2 linked regions of the Homo sapiens genome follow. The protein of the gene in region 1 interacts with the protein of each later gene in a pairwise test. Each region holds a gene or a part of one and is shown on either strand. Other genes may lie near its edges.

What was found. Proteins that work in one complex are often made in the same cells at the same time.
Region 2: the proteins of NEBL (region 1) and GLE1 interact in binary tests that used the Homo sapiens proteins (3 or more experiments, as listed by UniProt).

The regions. Positions count from the first base shown.
Region 1 is NC_000010.11:20,893,473-20,902,962, reverse strand, and holds the start of NEBL (nebulette), read left to right. Parts: upstream 1-5,651; 5' UTR 5,652-5,757; coding exon 5,758-5,838; intron 5,839-5,933; coding exon 5,934-6,005; intron 6,006-9,490. UniProt on the Homo sapiens protein: Binds to actin and plays an important role in the assembly of the Z-disk. May functionally link sarcomeric actin to the desmin intermediate filaments in the heart muscle sarcomeres.
Region 2 is NC_000009.12:128,520,561-128,529,434, forward strand, and holds part of GLE1 (mRNA export factor GLE1), read left to right. Parts: intron 1-2,107; coding exon 2,108-2,256; intron 2,257-2,719; coding exon 2,720-2,780; intron 2,781-3,029; exon of another isoform or gene 3,030-3,031; coding exon 3,032-3,286; intron 3,287-4,631; coding exon 4,632-4,863; intron 4,864-6,618; coding exon 6,619-6,731; intron 6,732-6,895; coding exon 6,896-6,965; intron 6,966-8,050; exon of another isoform or gene 8,051-8,440; intron 8,441-8,874. UniProt on the Homo sapiens protein: Required for the export of mRNAs containing poly(A) tails from the nucleus into the cytoplasm. May be involved in the terminal step of the mRNA transport through the nuclear pore complex (NPC).

The DNA.
Region 1 (9,490 bases):
CAGTATAGTCCTGAAGGGAACACTCAGTAATTTGTTTTCTATGTGCCCATTTCAAAGTCTTTCACAATTATTCCTGACACATCTCACATAAAACTCTAGGAAAGGGACACTCTGTGGGAGTCAAGCTGTTTGATCCTGCCTGACCCTTTGGTTCTGGGTATAAGCCACATACAGACCAAGAAGAGCTTAGGTTTCTTCCTCTTGGTGGTGAAGATTGCGGGAGTGATCATGGTATTAGCTTAATTGCTATGAAAACTGAACTAATGTCTCAAGCTGTAAATGAAACCGAAGACTTTCAGCTCAATGGGCGCTATGTTAATGTAGACATTGAGAATACTTTCCTGCCCCCTCTATAAGCAGAGTACATCGTTTTAATTTGGGCTTCCCCACCACACCCAACCTGGAAATTGTTGTGCCCCATACTATTTCCAGTTTCTTGTTTTTCACTTCCTCCAACATCCATCTAACTATGTAGCTCTCATTTGTGAGTGGGATCTACATCTGTGAAAAGGGGAATATACATATGGAATATACCTTATTAAATTTTTTTTTTTTTGAGACAGTGTCTTTGCTCTGTTGCCCAGGCTGGAGTGCAGTGGTGCGATCTTGGCTCACTGCAAGCTCTGCCTCCCAGGTTCACGCCATTCTCCTGCCTCAGCCTCCCGAGTAGCTGGGACTACAGGCACCCGCCACCATGCCCAGCTAATTTTTTGTATTTTGTTTAGTAGAGACGGGGTTTCACAGTGTTAGCCAGGATGATCTCGATCTCCTGACCTCATGATCCGCCTGTCTCGGTCTCCCAAAGTGCTGGGATTACAAGCGTGAGCCACCGCGCCCGGCCACCTTATTAAATCTTAATAGCATACTTGGTCATGGTGACACATGTTTAGGTTGCTTTGTGTTCTTTCGATTTCTGATTATTAAAGAGTAATGAAATAGCTATTAAAAAGGAGAAAATATGTTCATGAATTCTAAATTGTAAAAGTTGATTGGACCAATATTAAGCAAAACTCTTCTCTTTTATAAAGGAGACAAATTGTCCTAGAGTGCTTACATTTCTTCTTTCAAGAAATGATTTATCTTGCCTCGTCCATCAGTAAAGTTCTGTTCTGGGAAGATACCAGTTACTGAGTAAATAGGTGAGGCAAAGATGGAATGACTAGGGATTCAACTGAGAAGCAGGAACCTTCCGGAAGACGGTCATCAAAACAAAAACCAGGCAACAAAAAATGAGTGTGAAAAAACCATCATGGCAGGGAAACAAATCAGGCAAACAAATTCTTCTTTCACCTAACCATTTGGAATGAATATTTTATAATAAGAAATGTTGAATTCATTTTTAAAGTTAAAAGAAAAGCAGTTTATCTCTGTACTTTTTTCCCCCCACTCAGAACTGAATTTGGATCTGTTTTAATTGTTTATTATAAATTTTTATTTTTAAATCATGTATCACCATGTTGAGGAAAAGTACATGTTCTATCATTATGAAAAAAAGGAGAAAAAAGTGAAATAAGTGTGAAACAGTCAAAAACCAAGAAAGTCTTGTCATAGGCGACCTCAAGGAAGGTGAAGACAGTTGTGCACTGCACGACTCCAGATGGTGGCACAGATACGTTCCCTTGGCCACGGCTGTGTCTCTGAGACTTGAATTACCCACCTGACAGTTGCTAAGGAAATACATTTGCTTACGTGTAAACATCAAGCTATCAAAAGATCAGAAGACTTCTGAATTATAAATAAGCAAGTGAGCTCTTATCTTTAAGCTGTCTAGTTGCAGAAGGCCCTTCTTGACTTTAAAAGGATATTAATGGCACAGAGAATGAGAAGACCTTTTCATGCCAAATGTTTTTCACATCACTGTGTACCTTTATTGGTGGTTGAAAAAAAGCTTGTGTTTGTGAGGGGCTCCACTATTTTTAAGGTGCTTTTTCTTTTTATTTTTTTTAAGAGGGAGTCTCGCTCTGTCACCCAGGCTGGAGTGCAGTGGCGCGATCTTGGCTCACTGCAACCTCCGCCTCCCGGGTCAAGTGATTCTCCTGCCTCGGCCTCCTGAGTAGCTGAGATTACAGGTGTGTGCCACCATGCCCGGCTAATTTTTTTCTTTTTTCTTTTTTTTTCGGGATGGAGTCTCACTCTGTCACCTAGGCTGGAGTGCAGTGGCAGGATCTTGGCTCACTGCAACCTACGCCTCCCAAGTTCAAGCGATTCTTCTGTCTCAGCCTCCCTAGTAGCTGGGATTACAGGCGTAATCCCATCTACTGCCATCACACTCGGCTAATTTTTTTTTTTTTTTTGTATTTTAGTAGAGATGGGGTTTCACCATGTTGCCTAGGCTGGTCTCGAACTCCTGAGCTCAAGCAATCCACCTGCCTTGGCCTCCCGAAGTGCTAGGATTACAGGCGTGAACCACCGCACCCAGCCCATGCCCGGCTAATTTTTCTATTTTTACTAGAGACGGGGTTTGACCATGTTGGTCAGGCTGGTCTCGAACTCCTGACCTTGTGATCTGCCTGCCTCAGCCTCCCAAAGTGCTGGGATTACAGGCGTGTGCCACTGCGCACCCAGCCAGTGCTTTCTTTTTATTAACTTCTGTCAACTCAGTTTTTCTGTTTAACTATGAAGAATTAGAGGTAGTGAGGGGTTGAATAATTTGCCCTAGAGGACATGGCAGAGCCAGACCTGGACTTTGAGAGTTTAGCCATAAGTGATGTCTCTTGGTCTCATTCTGTATCAAGGCATGCGTAGAGTACTAAAGTAGAAAAGTAAACAACATAAAAGAAGTGCCCAATAAGTAAAAGCTATGAGCAGCTACAGAGATTTTGCCTTTTGGAGCAACCCAAGGTGAAAATATCTATTAAAATACATTAAGCTTGGTTTTTGGAAAAGTCGATAGGGGATTTTGAAACATGATAGCTGTCCATGAGGAACACTTTCTTCATATTCTCCATGTCATATTTTAGAGCTACTGACAAGAAAACTTTGCTGTGATGAAGTGCAGGGCTTAACACTTTTTTAGAGAAAACTTTGCATGAATTTTATATTATAGGTGAGAGGAAAAAAGATGTATTCAATCAAAAGTAATGGTGTCTCTAGCTTGCCAAACGATCCATTAAAGACTTCATCCAGCAAGTGTTGAGTGATGAGTATTTTATTTCCAATTCTATCTTAGTATGAAGAATATTTTATTCACCATTCTATCTCTAACACCAAGCACAGTGCCTGGCATAACAACATTTATTTGTTGAACAAATGAACACAGGTCTCTAGTTAGGTTCTGATCCTAGTGCTTCATTGAATGGCTTTGTAAATGAGACACATAATTTTTCATAGCCTTCATTTTGTCATCTGTGAAAGAGAGGGCTTTAGGTGTATTGATTTCTTAAGGATCCCTTTGGCTTGAAATTCTGATTCTAGAATCTCAAATGGAAAATTTGTGTTCACATTGCACGTGGTGTTTGGTTTTTGTTTTCAAAAGTTTGTGCATTAAATCTCAACAGCTTATTTTCTTGCAGCACAGTGAAGAGTCCCTAAGAACATATTACGTGATGGGAAATGAGAAATAACTGCACTGCAAGCCTGATGAAGGTAATTCACCTTGGGGAATAGGTGTCACCCTGAGTAACACCAGTACTGTCTCCTCAAATATGAGCCAAAAGGTGTGTCTCAGGCAGTTTTGGCAAGATTTTCTCCCTACACTCCTAGAAATTTGCAAGACAAGTTTACAGAAATTACTCCTCCCTATTTCCAAATAAAGATAATGTAATAGATCTATAGAATATTAGAATAGTCTTCTGGCCAGCAGAGGACTTGAGGGAAATAATTGGAATGCACACATTCTTTCCTTTTACGGAACAAATAAAATATACAAGGAATGTCCTTGTGGAATCCACTACACTGGGCCAGCATGATATGGCTGTAATCTTAGAGTTGTGGTTTCCAAGTTCAGCATGCTTGAGGCAATTTCTTTTTGGTATTTTGTTGGTGAACAGGATATGTGATACCATTAATTTAGCCTGTATCAAAAACTAGTTCAAGACCAACAGCTCCTTCTAGAACACAACATTTTAGGAGAATAGAGCAATGTTTCCCTAAGCAGTCGGTCATATTTCACAGAGGAGTGTTAGTTTTCTGGGGTAGTGGGTATGATTAAAAAAAAGATAGGTAGATAGGTAGGTAGGTAGATTAGATTAAATTGGATTAGATTTGATGAGATAAACAGGTTTGTGTTCAGGGGAACACGAGGTTAAGCAAGCCTAAGCAGGTTTTTTGGTTGAAGGTCTTCTCAGAACTTCTAGTATGTCAATATGCCTTGTAGATCTCTAAGTGGCAGGGACAGAGACTGGGGTACAGATTTCCCAAACATATTTGTTTAAGAAACCTGCTTTTTTCCCCCAGAATCTTTTGTGGAACTTTTGCCTCATGGAACACAATTTCAGAAATAATTTATACGTGATGACTGTGTAGAATGTTTTTCTTGTCAGGATTTTCAGTTTAGGTAAGGCCAAGGCATTTTTTTTTTACAGTACATTGAAAACTAGATATGATATCAAGAGAAAAAATTATGCTTGGCTACTTAGAATGACATACTATTTTTAATAAATTTGTATTTTGTATCATCAGTATTACTATTCAGTGTAGGGTATTTTTTATGCCCAATGCTAATGTGCTATGACTTGGTAAAATTAATTTACCCTAGGATTTACATAACCAGATTAATAAATTGTGAGTTGTAGGGAGTCTTGGAATTGCCTGAATTGACATTAAAATATTTGTTTTGAGAAATTTTTTTTTAACCTTGGTTTTACGTAACCAAGGACATACACTACATTATAAATATTGTGATGGTTTATTTTTCCAAACTTTTCTGAATGTGGGGTGCCCATTGAGTAATAATGCAAATCACCAATGACTTTGTAAAAATTGACATGATGAGTAGAACTGCAGAATTCAAAGATGATGATGATGATTTTTGAAACGATGTTTCCAGAATTGTTAAATTATGTATCAACATATGTTAACTGCAACTTCTCATGTTTAATGATGTTTACAATTAATACAATACCATACTCGCCAGTATAATACTAACAGTCATAATTAACTCAGAATAGATTCTTTGAAGTGGTTCAAAGGGCTTTTCATAATAAATAAGTAGCCTCTAATCAGCTAATATAAAGTGGGTATTTTTTAGGATGTGAGAAGTACTGGTATGTCTGATAAAACATATAATTTAGGTTGACAAAATGAGTTTGAATGATCCAGATTCACTACCCCAAGTCAGAAGGAAGTCTGACATTCCAGTGAAAGCTTTATTTAGACAGAGACAAGGAATCTTTGAGATAACAGGCTTTGGACTGTGCTATCTTGAGTGTTAGAGCTGAGTAGTTTTCCCAGAATCTCTAAGTCCTTTTTATGCTCTTTTATGAATGAATAGAATTAGTAAAAGATAAATAAATTTTTTCTTTTGGATTTCTTAACCAGTGGAAAAAATGTTGACTTTAAAAGTTCATAAAATCAAATTTTGCTTAAGAATATGTTATTTCCACTTGTGAGGCCAGCCTGGTAGACCTCTGGGATCCTTTTCTGTTCACTCACACACCACTGAGATAAGGAGTGAAGTGTGGGCTAAATAGGGCTGAGGCTTGGGCAAGGGCATTTCTGCCAGAGCACCAGAGACGTCAGCATCTCAAGGGCACTGTGGTATGGAAAAGGACGCCACATGAGTAAATTTTAAAAATATAAATATTTTAAAGGGTAAAAATGAGGGTCCCTGTATTTGAGGATATAAAAGATGAAACTGAAGAAGAAAAGATAGGGGAAGAAGAAAATGAAGAAGACCAGGTGAGTGAGAAAACACATACTCAGACCAGCGTTTGTTCCTCTAAATTGACAATGAGAAAAATGTTCTTTCTGTTCTTTTCTTTTTTTTCAAATAGGTCTTCTATAAGCCTGTTATTGAAGACTTAAGCATGGAATTGGCCAGAAAATGCACGGAACTCATTAGCGATGTAAGTGGCTGGAGTAATTTTTGTCTTATTTTGCATTGCACCTGTGGTATTATTATGTTATAGAGTCATAGAGCTGTGGGGGAAACCCTGAAATCACCTTTTAAAACACAGTCACTTTCCAGATCATGGAACAAAGTCCTGAAATTTTCAGTGATTTCCCCAAGGTCACCTATACAGAGAATTTCTGCTAGAGCAAGTCTCCTCATTCTTAATCCAGAATCCTGTCCCTTATGAGTTTTGCTGTCACGCTGGCATGAAATCATAAGGCATTGAATTGCAGTATTTATTCCATTTGAGAACCCCCAAAGATTTTAAAATGAATATAATGATGTAATTTGTCTTGGGAGGCCCTCTATCTAAATGAATAGTCATTTTTTTAACATTTTGGGGCCTTCTGAACAATCTAATGAATGGACTTGTCTTCCAGAACAGGAAAATGCATATATATATATATATATATATATATATATATATGCATATAATATTTATTTACAATTCAGGATTTGTTGATTACTGACCTGCTTGCTAAGAACCCTGATATTAGTGCAAGGATATTAGTGCAAGGGGTATTTTTGTTGTGACATTTTTTAGTAACTGGGATTGGTTGATATTACACTTTAAGGGAATCCCAGAATTATTGAATGATTGAACATATAATTTTATGTTAAATATGTAAGCTAGAATTCAAGAAGTACAAGGAAAAATGTTGCTCACCAGGGATGAGAATTTAGATGATCCTCATTAGCGGTTCTAAGAGGATTGCTGGTCCAGAGAAAGGGTAACTCCTGTAAAGTGAATATGTGCCTGTGTCTTCATTTAGAGAGATGAGCACAATACTGGTTGTTTCTGTTGTTGATAATAAGCAAAATGATCAGAATGTTTTGCACGTTTGTTTTCTAACGGAAGTCAGTCCTGGGCAGGAGGGTAGTGGTCTGGCACATCCTCCAAAGTCAACCTGCCTGGGTTGACTCCCCAGTAACCTTGGGAAGGTTATGGAACCTGGCTTGGCTCCATCCCTCAGCTGTAACATTTATAATAAGATTAAATAATGGTAATGCATATAAATGCTGAATAAACTATCTGGAACATTGTGAGTACTCCATAAATGTTAGCTGTTATTAACTACTCTGTCTGTTACTTCCTTTTACATCCATCCAATCACAATTTAGATATGACTGGCTCTTTCTGACAAACCAGAAGGCAAGCACAAAGGATGCTGGTGGAAATCATACCCTTTCCCATATACTTGACATGTGATGTAATTACCCTTTAAATTAAGTATTTCTTTGTGCTATTACTTAATAGTCATTAGCTATTGTATGTGAAAGTTCTCTGTAAATTGCAGTAATAATAAGTGACAATGACAACAACAACAACAATAACACTATTGGCAACAGTTAAGATTTAGTGACTATTGTGTGCCAGGGATTGCAGCTTGCGAGGTAGGCGCTAGGCTTTTTCTCATTTCTGAAGCGAGGAGATAGAGGCACAGAGAGGTTCAGTACCTTGCCTGGGTCACACAGTTAAGCAGAGGCAGTAATAGTTGAACACAGAGGCCTCCCTCTTTACACTGCCAAGTTATCTCTCCCTGTAGATTTCCATGAAATGTTGTTCTTCGCCTTATTATTATTATGTTACTATTATTAGTAGTAATGCTACCAACTAAAACCCTGAGTTCCTAACCTCTTCCAGCTTTGATATATTTTTATTGAAGTGCAATTATAGCTGAGCTAACTTGTGTTACATAAACCATCAGGACTAAAGTGGTAACTGTAGTTAGTAGGTGATTTGGTTGGAGTTGTTTTGGATAAGATTGTCTATCAGTGACTTTAAAACCAACATGTTGTGAGGGGTGGTGGCCTTTATCATTATGCAAAAGCTAAATCCATACATTTCACACCCACGTAGGTAAAATGAAACAGATAGGCATACTTTCTGTTTATTACAGATTTTTGTGGCATGGTAGAATGTACTACTTAAATTTAGGACATGATTATTCTGCCTTAATTTTTTTTTTTTTTTTTTTTTTTAGACAGAGTCTCGCTCTATCACCCAGGCTGGAGGGCAGTGGCACGATCTCGGCTCACTGCAAGCTCCGCCTCCTGGGTTCACGCCATTCTCCTGCCTCAGCCACCCGAGTAGCCGGGACCACAGGCGCCTGCCACTAAGCCCGGCTAATTTTTTTGTATTTTTTTTTTTTTTTTTTTAGTAGAGACGGGGTTTCACCGTGTTAGTTAGGATGGACTCGATCTCCAGACCTCGTGATCTGCCCGCCTCGGCCTCCCAAAGTGCTGGGATTACAGGCGTGAGCCACCATGCCCGGCCTATTCTGGCTTAATTTATATCTGTATACACATTCACATTTTGCTTCCGAATAGAATTCTATACTTGCTAAGATACTTATTTAATTTTTAGATTTTTTTCCTTTTTCTCTTCTTTTCTTTCTTCCTTTTTTTCCTTCCTTCCTTCTTCTTTTTTATTTTTCTGGACAGAGTCTCACTCTGTTGCCCAGGCTGGAGTTCTGTCATGTGACTGCAGCTCACTGCAGTCTCAATTTCCTGGGCTCAAGTGATTCTCCAGCCTTAGCCTTCCAAGTGGCTAGGACTACAGGTGTGTGCTACCATGCCTGGCTAATTTTCATTTTCTTTTTCGTAGAGATGGAGTCTCACTATGTTGCCCAGGCTGGTCTCAAGCTCTTGGCTTTAAGTGATTCTCCTGCATCGTTCTCCCAGAGTGCTGGGATTACAGGTGTGAGCCACCGGGCTGGCCCTGCTTCGTTTCTGTAGATGAGAGGGATGGTTTCATGGACTTCTCTTCATGGTGCAGCCTAATTGTTACTCTTTGGACTTCTTCCAGCTTTCATATATCCTTAATAACCAATATGTAATAATCAGAACTGTGCAGAGTGGTACAGATGTGGACGGTCTAGATCACGTGTAGAGCAGGATGATGTTTTGCTTAGCTTCTAGCACCCTTTATGATGCTATGAAGAGTTTCTTAGACTTGGGAGCTGCAGAAAGCTGTTAGATCAGCTTGATAATCTGTAGACCATCAGAGCCATTTCATTCCTAATTTCTGACCTGTAGCTGATAGCTTAGGACCCATCATCTTTAAATAATAGTTTGAATTATTTTAACCACACTAGGGCTAGATCTAATCTGTAGTTTTCTGCCCTCTTGCCTGGCCCTTTGAGAACTTCTGAAGTTCATCTCAGTTTGCCGTTTCCCTTACTGAGACAGCTTGGAGTCAGCAGACCTGTAGACACTGCTATATCATCCCCTTGTCAGACAATTTTATAGAAATGTTAAGCAAGATTGGCCTAGAGATCAGCCCTAGGAAGCCTGCACTGCTTAGAATTCTCCATAGAGAGAAATGTCCGTTTTTCAGGTCAAGTGGCTTCACTTTGGGCATCAGTATAAGGCATTTTTCTTTCTTTCTCTTTCTCCCCCCACCTAGTTTCTGCTTTGCACTTGCTCTACCCACAT
Region 2 (8,874 bases), on another chromosome or scaffold:
GGTAGCTCCGTTTTCAGCCTGATGAGGCCCACCTATATGAGTCGTGGCATTTCCCAGTCTTGAGACTCTGCAGTTCGGCTGGTAGATTGGCTTTCTGCTCCCGTGAGGCATCGTCTGCTTCTCACACACATCGTGTGTGTGTGTGTGTATCCTTGGGTTTTCTCAGCTCTGCTCTATCATTTATTGCTTCTCCACTATTTTTTTTTTTTTAAAGACAGGGTCTCGCTCCGTTGCTCAGGCTGGAATACAGTGGTGCAATCACCGCTCCTTGCAGCCTTGACCTCCTGGGTTCAGGCATTCCTCCTACCTCAGCTCTTTCTGCTTTCTAAATAACTGGGACTGCAGGTGTGCACCACCACAGCCAGATAATTTTTAAATTTTTGGTAGAGACGGGGGTCTCTCTGTTGCCCAGGCTGGTCTCGAACTCCTGGGCTCAAGTGATCCTCCCACTTTGGCCTCCTCAAGTGCTGGGATTACAGATCTCAGCCAGTGCACCTGGCTATTTCTCCACTGACTGTTTTCCAGAAGTATGTAGAAGATTTTTCCCTGCTGGTGACATCTCTCATGCTCTATGTGGTGTTATGTCTTTTTTTTCTTTCCAATTCTCACTTTAACAGAGTCCCAGAGGAGAGGACATATATGCTTGTTTAGTTTGCCTTCTTTCGCTGGAAGCTTTAAAATAAGTTTTAAGACTGGGTACAGTTGGCTTATGCCTATAATCCCAGCAGTTTGGGAGGCCAAAGTGGGAGGATAGCTTGAGATCGGGAGCTCTAGACCATCCTGGGCAATATAGTGAGACCCTGACTCTATAAAAAATTTAAAAATTAGCCCCGTGTGATAGTGGACACCTTTAGTCCCAGCTACTCAGGTGGCTGAGTTGGGATGATCCCTTGAGCTCAGGAGTTCAAGGCTGCCGTGAGCTATAAGTGTGCCACTGCACTCTAGCCTACATGACAGGGTGAGACCCTGTCTCAAAAATAAACAAATAAACAAAATAAAATATAATTATGTTTTAAAATAAAATAACATAATGTCTTAACAGTAGATTTTGACATATCTCCATGCTAGCTGGCATCTCGTCATCTTTAAGGGCTGCATAGTATTCTGCAGTATGACTGTACTATAATACGTGTCGTCATTCCCCAGTTAAGTGGTTTTAAATGTATTGCTGTTATCAACAGGGCTCCAGTGAGCATTCTTGTACATATATCTTTGCACACACATACAAGCATTTCCTCAGGATAAATTCCTGAAATGGAACAAGTGTCAAAGGATATAGACACTTCAAATTTTGATAGTTAAAATGTCAAATTGCCTTTAACCATATGTGAGTACTCTCATGAAATGATAAATTCAATATCTGATACCCTTAGGTACTAAGGAAAAGGACTTTCCTTAGTGGAGGTCCAGGAGAAAATCTTCGAGGCAGAGATTAACAAAATCAGTGAGATAGGAATGTGTATAGCTTGTTTATGGAATTAGAATGAGGATTTCCGTAAATTACCAATGAACCCCATAAGACTACACAGGATGGAAGCTTAATAGTGCATGGCTGTTTGATGTCATGTTGCTAAATTCCTGTCCGTTCCCAACTTGTACTGGAGTGACATAAACCATATGGGGCAATTGGAAGAGCTTTCCAAAACAGCTGAGCTTAAAGATCAAGCAAAAGGAGAAAGGATATTCCTGCAAAGGTTCTGATTCCATGCCCTTAAGTATCTCTGATGGTGTTAGGGGCCGATGGGCAGGTAGCCCGCAGGGGTAAATGATCAAGGTGTTGAAGGCGCTCCAGAGAGCAGGTGTTAAACATTTTCGGCCGGGCGAGGTGGCTCACGCCTGTAATCCGAGCACTTAGGGAGGCCAAGGCAGGCGGATCACAAGGTCAAGAGATCAAGACCATCCTGGCCAACATGGTGAAACCGTCTCTACTAAAAATACAAAAATTAGCTGGGCATGGTGGCAGGCACCTGTAGTCCCAGCTACTTGGGGAGCTGAGACAAGAATCGCTTGAACCCGGGAGTTGGAGGTTGCAGTGAGCTGCACTCCAGCCTGGCGACAGAGAGAGATTCCATCTTAAAAAAAAAAAAAAAAAAAAAAACCTTTTCAGGAGGGCCTGAGGCTATGGCAGGAGGAGCAGGAGAGGAAGGTGCAAGCCCTCTCGGAGATGGCATCTGAACAACTGAAGCGGTTTGATGAATGGAAGGAACTGAAGCAGCATAAAGAATTCCAGGACTTGCGGGAAGTAATGGAGAAGAGGTGAGTCTCCCTGAATTATGACTGGGAATGTTGATGTGTTCAACTGGAACTCTTTCCCAAGAGGAATTCCAAAGGGAAAGAGTTGAACAACTTCTGAGTCCTTAAATATCAAGGTAAAATAGGCAGAGAATTTTATAACCTGGAAAAAAGACCAAACTTGGAGAGACAACCAAAGGAACACAAAGAGGGAGGCTTTTAGGAGAGGTAAAACAATTTTACGGGCGTGGTGGAACACAGCTGTAGTCTCAATTACTAGAGAGGCTGAGGCAGGAGGATTGCTTGAGTCCAGGAGTTTGAGGCTGTGGTGAGCTATGCTCTGCAGCCTGGGCAACATAACGAGACCCCATCTCTAAGAAAAAGGGAAGGAAGGGAAGGGAGGGCAGGGAGAGGGAGAGAAAAGAAAGAAAGAAAAACAATTTCAGGAAGTATCCCTGACTATTCCTCCCTGCCATTTTTCATGCAGCTCCAGAGAAGCCTTGGGACACCAAGAGAAGCTAAAAGCTGAGCACCGTCACAGAGCAAAGGTCAGAGCCTGGCAGAATTGGTGTGGGTGTTTTGGTGTCTGTCTGTAACCTGCCTGGAGAGCCAGGTTTTGGCAGATGGCCACCATGGAGGATCTGGGCCGTATTATGCCTGTGTATGACTAACCTTGGGATGTCCTCTTCCTGCTCTGAGCCCATCTGTGAAAATATGTAGCCCACGTAGAATTTGAGGACTGTAGAAAGAAGAAGCCCAGGAACCCCTCAGAGAGAAGTCACTCAGCCCTTTTCTACAGATTCTCAACCTGAAGCTGCGGGAAGCAGAGCAGCAGCGCGTGAAGCAAGCAGAACAGGAGCGGCTTCGGAAGGAAGAAGGCCAGATCCGCCTGCGGGCCCTCTATGCTCTGCAGGAGGAGATGCTGCAGCTCAGCCAGCAGCTGGATGCCTCTGAGCAGCACAAAGCCCTGCTTAAGGTCGACCTGGCTGCCTTCCAGACCCGAGGCAACCAGCTGTGCAGCCTCATCTCAGGGATCATCCGGGCCTCTTCAGAGGTGAGGGGGGCTTCAGAGTGACTCTTTGCTGTCTTTGAAATGGAAGCCTTTAAAAGCAAAACTGTTTTCTGACTTAAAAAGTAATACCTGCTATCTGCTTATTGGGGGAAATACCAAACATTACTTGTTATCTCCATATCTCTTTACCTAGAAGTAACCACTGTTAACATTTTATTTTGTTTCTTTTATTTATTTCTTTATTTTTATACCTGCTTATTCTGGAGTCTTTTTTTTTTTTTTTTTTTTTTTTTGTGATGGGGTTCCCCTTTGTCACCCAGGCTGGAGTGCAGTAACACAGTCTCAGCTCATGCAACCTCTGCCTCCCGGGCTCAAGTGATCCTCCCACCTCAGTCTCCTGAGTAGCTGGGACTACAGGCGCATACCACCATGCCCTGCTAATTTTTGTATTTTTTTGTAGAGACAGGGTTTTGCCATGTTGCTCAGGCTGGTCTCTAACTCCTGGGCTGAAGTGATCCCCCTACTTCGGCCTCCCAAACTGCTGAGATTACAGGTGTGAGCCACGGTGCCAAACTTTTTTTGTTTCGTTTTGTTTTTAAATTAGCAATAGAGATCTCACTATGTTTCCCAGGCTGGTCTTGAACTCCTGGGCTGAAGTGATCCTCCCACCTTAGCCTCCCGAAGTATTGGGGTTACAGGCACGAGCCATTGTACCTGCCCTGTTTCTTTGCTTTGCTTTTTTTTTTTTTTTTTTTTTTTTTTTTTGAGACAGGGTCTCACACTCTTGCCCCGGCTGGAGTGCAGTGGTGTGATCATGGCTCACTTCAACCTCCGGCTTCCAGGTTCAAGCGATTCTCGGATTACTTGAGGCTAGGAGTTCGAGACCAGTAGGTTTCAGCCAACATGGTGAAACCCAGTCTCTACTAAAAATACAAAAATTAGCTGGGTGTGGTGACGCACACCTGTAATCCCAGCTACTTGGGAAGCTGAGGCACGAGCAGCACTTGAACCTGGGAGGCAAAGGTTGCAATGACCGAGATCTTGCCACTGCACTCCAACCTGGGCAATGGAGATTCTGTCTCAAAAAATAATTATTATTATAATAAAACAGTATTATTTTTGTCTAACATATTGTCACAAACTTTTTAAAAAATTACGCTGGCCCTTGTTGCTGAGAATACAGACCAATTTATACTTAGAAACTATGGATGTGACAGTAAGTTGGAATTATTAATACCTTTAAGAGAACAGGGAAAGAAGTATCAATTCGTTGAATGTGGATACTCCATTGGTGCAACAATTCCAATTGCAGGAAATTTATTGACTTGTATGAGGTATGATTTACCTAGGGAATGACCACTAAGCACCATCTCCGTCACTCTGACAGAGCAGCTATCCCACAGCAGAGAGTCAAGCTGAGGCTGAGCGAGCTCTGCGGGAAATGCGGGACCTCCTGATGAACTTGGGGCAGGAGATCACCAGAGCCTGCGAAGACAAGAGGAGGCAGGATGAAGAAGAGGCCCAGGTAAAGCTGCAAGAGGCACAGATGCAGCAGGGACCAGAGGCCCACAAAGAGCCCCCAGCTCCCAGCCAGGGCCCAGGAGGGAAACAGAATGAAGGTGGGTTTCAGTATGGATGTGGTCCTTTAACTCGTAAGTTTCAAATGTGAAGAGAAACAAGAGCATGTTTTGAATGTTGTGTTAAACTGTAGGACAGTTAACCAGAATTTTATGTAATGTATTTCATTCAGTTTTGGTTGATGTAGAGTCTGATTTACGATTCCAACACTTTGCGTGAGGACTTGAAATTCTGTATAACTCTAGCAGATACATTATTTCAATTATTGCTGCTGCTGAGTATTTTAAATAAATGCGCACAGATATGTGTTGGTGTAATACGTATAAGGGGTCAGGAGTTCGAGACCAGCCTGGCCAACATGCCGAAACTCCCATCTCTACCAAAAATAAAAAAATTAGCTGGGCATGGTGGCACGCACCTGTAGTCCCAGCTACTCGGGAGGCTAAGGCAGGAGAATTGCTTGACCCAGGAGCTGGAGGTTGCAGTGAGCTGAGGTGGTGCCACTGCACTCCAACCTGGTGACAGAGTGAGACTCCGTCTCAAAAAAAGAAAAAGAATCAGTGTACCATAGTGTTTGAGAGTGCTGACTCTGGAGCCAGATCAGTGGGAGTCTGGTTTTTGTTGTTGTTGTTGTTGTTGTTGTTTTTTGCGGGGAGGGGATGGAGATTTGCTCTTGTTGCCCAGGCTGGATTGCAGTGGCGCGATCTTGGCTCTCTGCAACCTCTGCCTCCCGGGTTCAAACAATTCTCCTGCCTCAGCCTCCCGAGTAGCTGGGATTACAGGTGCCTGCCACTGTGCCTGGCTAATTTTTGTATTTTTAGTAAAGATGGGATTTCACCACGTTGGCCAGGCTGGTCTCAAACTCCTGACCTCATGATCCACCCGCCTCGGCCTCCCAAAATGCTAGGATTACAGGTGTGAGCCACCGCACCCAGCCTGGGAGTCTAATTTTTCTTTTTTGGTGTGTTTTGTTTTTGTTTTTGTTTTTTTTGAGACAGAGTTTTGCTCTTGTTGCCCAGGCTGGAGTGCAATGGCACAATCTCAGCTCACTACAACCTCCGCCTCCCAGGTTCAAGCGATTCTCCTGCCTCAGCCTCCTGAGTAGCTGAGATTACAGGCATGCACCACCACACCTGGCTAATTTTTTTGTATTTTTAGTGGAGACGGGGTTTCTCCATGTTGGTCAGGCTGGTTTCGAACTCCCGACCTCAGGTGATCTGCCAGCATTGGCCTCCCAAAGTGCTGGGATTATAGGCATGAGCCACTGCGCCCAGCGTTTTTTGTTTTTTGTTTTTTTTTTGAGATAGGAGTCTCACTCTTGTTACCCAGGCTGGAGGAGTACAGTGGTATGATTATGGCTCACTATAGCCTCACCCTCCCAGGCTCAAGTGATCCTCCCCACTCAGCCTCCCAAGTAACTGGGACTACAGGCATGCGCCACCCTGCCTGGCTAATTTGTGTATTTTTTGTAGAGATGGGATTTCACCATGTTGTGCAAGCTGGTCTCAAGCTCCTGGGCCTGTCTTGGCCTCCTAGAGTACTGTAATTATAGGCGTGGGTCACCACACCCAGCCTTAGTTTTTCTACTTAGTAGTAATGTGACCATGGCAAATCACTTAACCTTTTTGTGCCTGTTTCCTTTTCTATAAAATGGAGATAATAATAGTATCTATTTCATAGTTATGGTGACAGTTAAAGCAGTCAGTACATACATAAAGTGATTATAACAGTGCCTGCCTCATATTACATGTTCAGTAAATACTAGCTATTACTAAAACCTCTCTTTTATTTCTCAGACCTCCAGGTGAAGGTACAAGACATTACAATGCAGTGGTACCAGCAGCTGCAGGATGCTTCCATGCAGTGTGTGTTGACCTTTGAGGGCCTGACCAACAGCAAGGACAGTCAGGTAGGGGAGAGGTATATGGCAGTAATTTTGTGGACTTGATGGTTCTCAGAGAATGATCACTTCGTGTCCCAAAGGAATGTAGCTGGCATGTCACTTTACCTGATTCTAAGTGACATCTACTCAGCTCTTCAGAACACTGCTTTCTCACTGTTCTCTTCTGGCAGGCCAAAAAGATAAAGATGGACCTCCAGAAGGCTGCTACCATCCCAGTGAGCCAAATCTCTACCATTGCAGGTTGGTCAGAGGGGTTGAGAACATGACCTTTCATTTCATTGTATTATCTTTCAGACTCCAAATCTATGTATCTGTAAGGTTCCTATAAAAGTATATTCAAACAAATGTTTACAGTTGGATCGGGTACATATAAGTGACATACATCTTGTTTCCCTGATATAATCATGGCTGGGCTCACGCCTGTAATCCCAGGACTTTGGGAGGCCGAGGTGGGCGGATCACGAGGTCAGGAGTTCAAGAGCAGCCTAACCAACATAGTGAAACCCTGTCTCTACTAAAAATACAAATACTAGCTGGGTGTGGTGGCTCTCACCTATAATGCCAGTTACTCAGGAGGCTGAGGCAGGACAATTGCTTGAACCCAGGAGGCGGAGATTGCAGTGAGCCGAGATCACACCACTTCACTCCAGCCTGGGTGACAGAGCGAGACTCTGTCTCAAAAACAAAAAAAGAAGACTCTTTTTTTTTTCTTTTTTTCTTTTTTTTTTTTTTGAGACAGAGTCTTGCTCTGTCGCCCAGGCTGGAGTGAAGTGGCGTGATCTCGGCTCACCGCAAGCTCCGCCTACCGGCTTCACGCTGTTCTATTCTCCTCCCTCAGCCTTCTGAGTAGCTGGGACTACAGGCGCCCACCACCATACCCGGCTAATTTTTTGTATTTTTAGTAGAGACGGGGTTTCACTGTGTTAGCCAGGATGTTCTTAATCTCCTGACCTGGTGATCCACCTGCCTCGGCCTCCCAAAGGGCTGGGATTACAGGCGTGAGCCACTGTGCCCAGCCCCCTTTTTTTTTTTTTTTGAGATGTAGTCTTGCTCTGTCACCCAGACTGGAGTGCAGTGGCGCAATCTCGGCTCACTGCAAGCTCTGCCTCCCGGGTTCACGCCATTCTCCTGCCTCAGCCTCCCAAGTAGCTGGGACTACAGCTGCCCGCCACCACGCCCAGCTAATTTTTTGTATTTTTAGTAGACACGGGGTTTCACCGTGTTAACCAGGATGGTCTCGACCTCCTGACCTTGTGATCCGCCCGCCTCAGCTTCCCAAAGCGCTGGGATTACAGGCGTGAGTCACTGCACCCGGCCTTTTTGACTCATTTTTAACAAGCTACCTTTTATGGCAAATTATTAGGATGGCTCTTAGCTTTGAAGTTGCAGTTTACTGCTGAAAACATCACTCAGGGAACCTAGGCTGTGACTTGCAGGCTTTGCTTCTGTCCTACAACATTAGCTTTTCCAAATTACTCCAAGCTCGCCTTGTTCATCCTCCAGGACTCCTTTTCTCTCCAGAGACTGAGGTTTAGAAAGTGAGAACCAGACAAGGAAGAAACTTCTTTAGAACCAGAGGTTCATTTGTATGGAGCTGTAGATGTGGAAGCCTCCAGATTATAGACTGAGCTGCCAGGTGGCTGGGGAGTGTGTGTGCAACTGGAACACTCCTCTGACGCATCGTGGGTTCCGTTCCCCGACTCACTTCTCATTGCCTGGAAAGCATAGGAAAATTTCAGTTCCTGCCCTTGATAGGCAGTCCAGCAAAACTTACATATGACTTTGCTGCCTGAAATTCTTTCTGGAACAGGGCAAGGTATAAATAAATAAATAACATATCACTTTTTGGAATTTAAAGTGCTGTGTCCTTTGATAGCAACAGCAAAGCAAGAGAGGTTGACTGGACAGCCACTCCACACCTCGATGGCCGTTCCCAGTTCCCCTCTGTTGACTGCAGACAGGGTCAGTACCTCCTTCATCAGGAAAATGGAGACATCCAGTGTGAGCTCCTCAGAGCCCCTCCACCACTGCACAGTGACATTTACCTCTTAGTCTCCTGTGTCACTGGATGAGGCGTCCTTGCTGCTGGGCTTACCCTTCCACCTCTGCCCTTGTTCCCTTTCCTTCCTGTCTCCTGTCAGACTGCCTC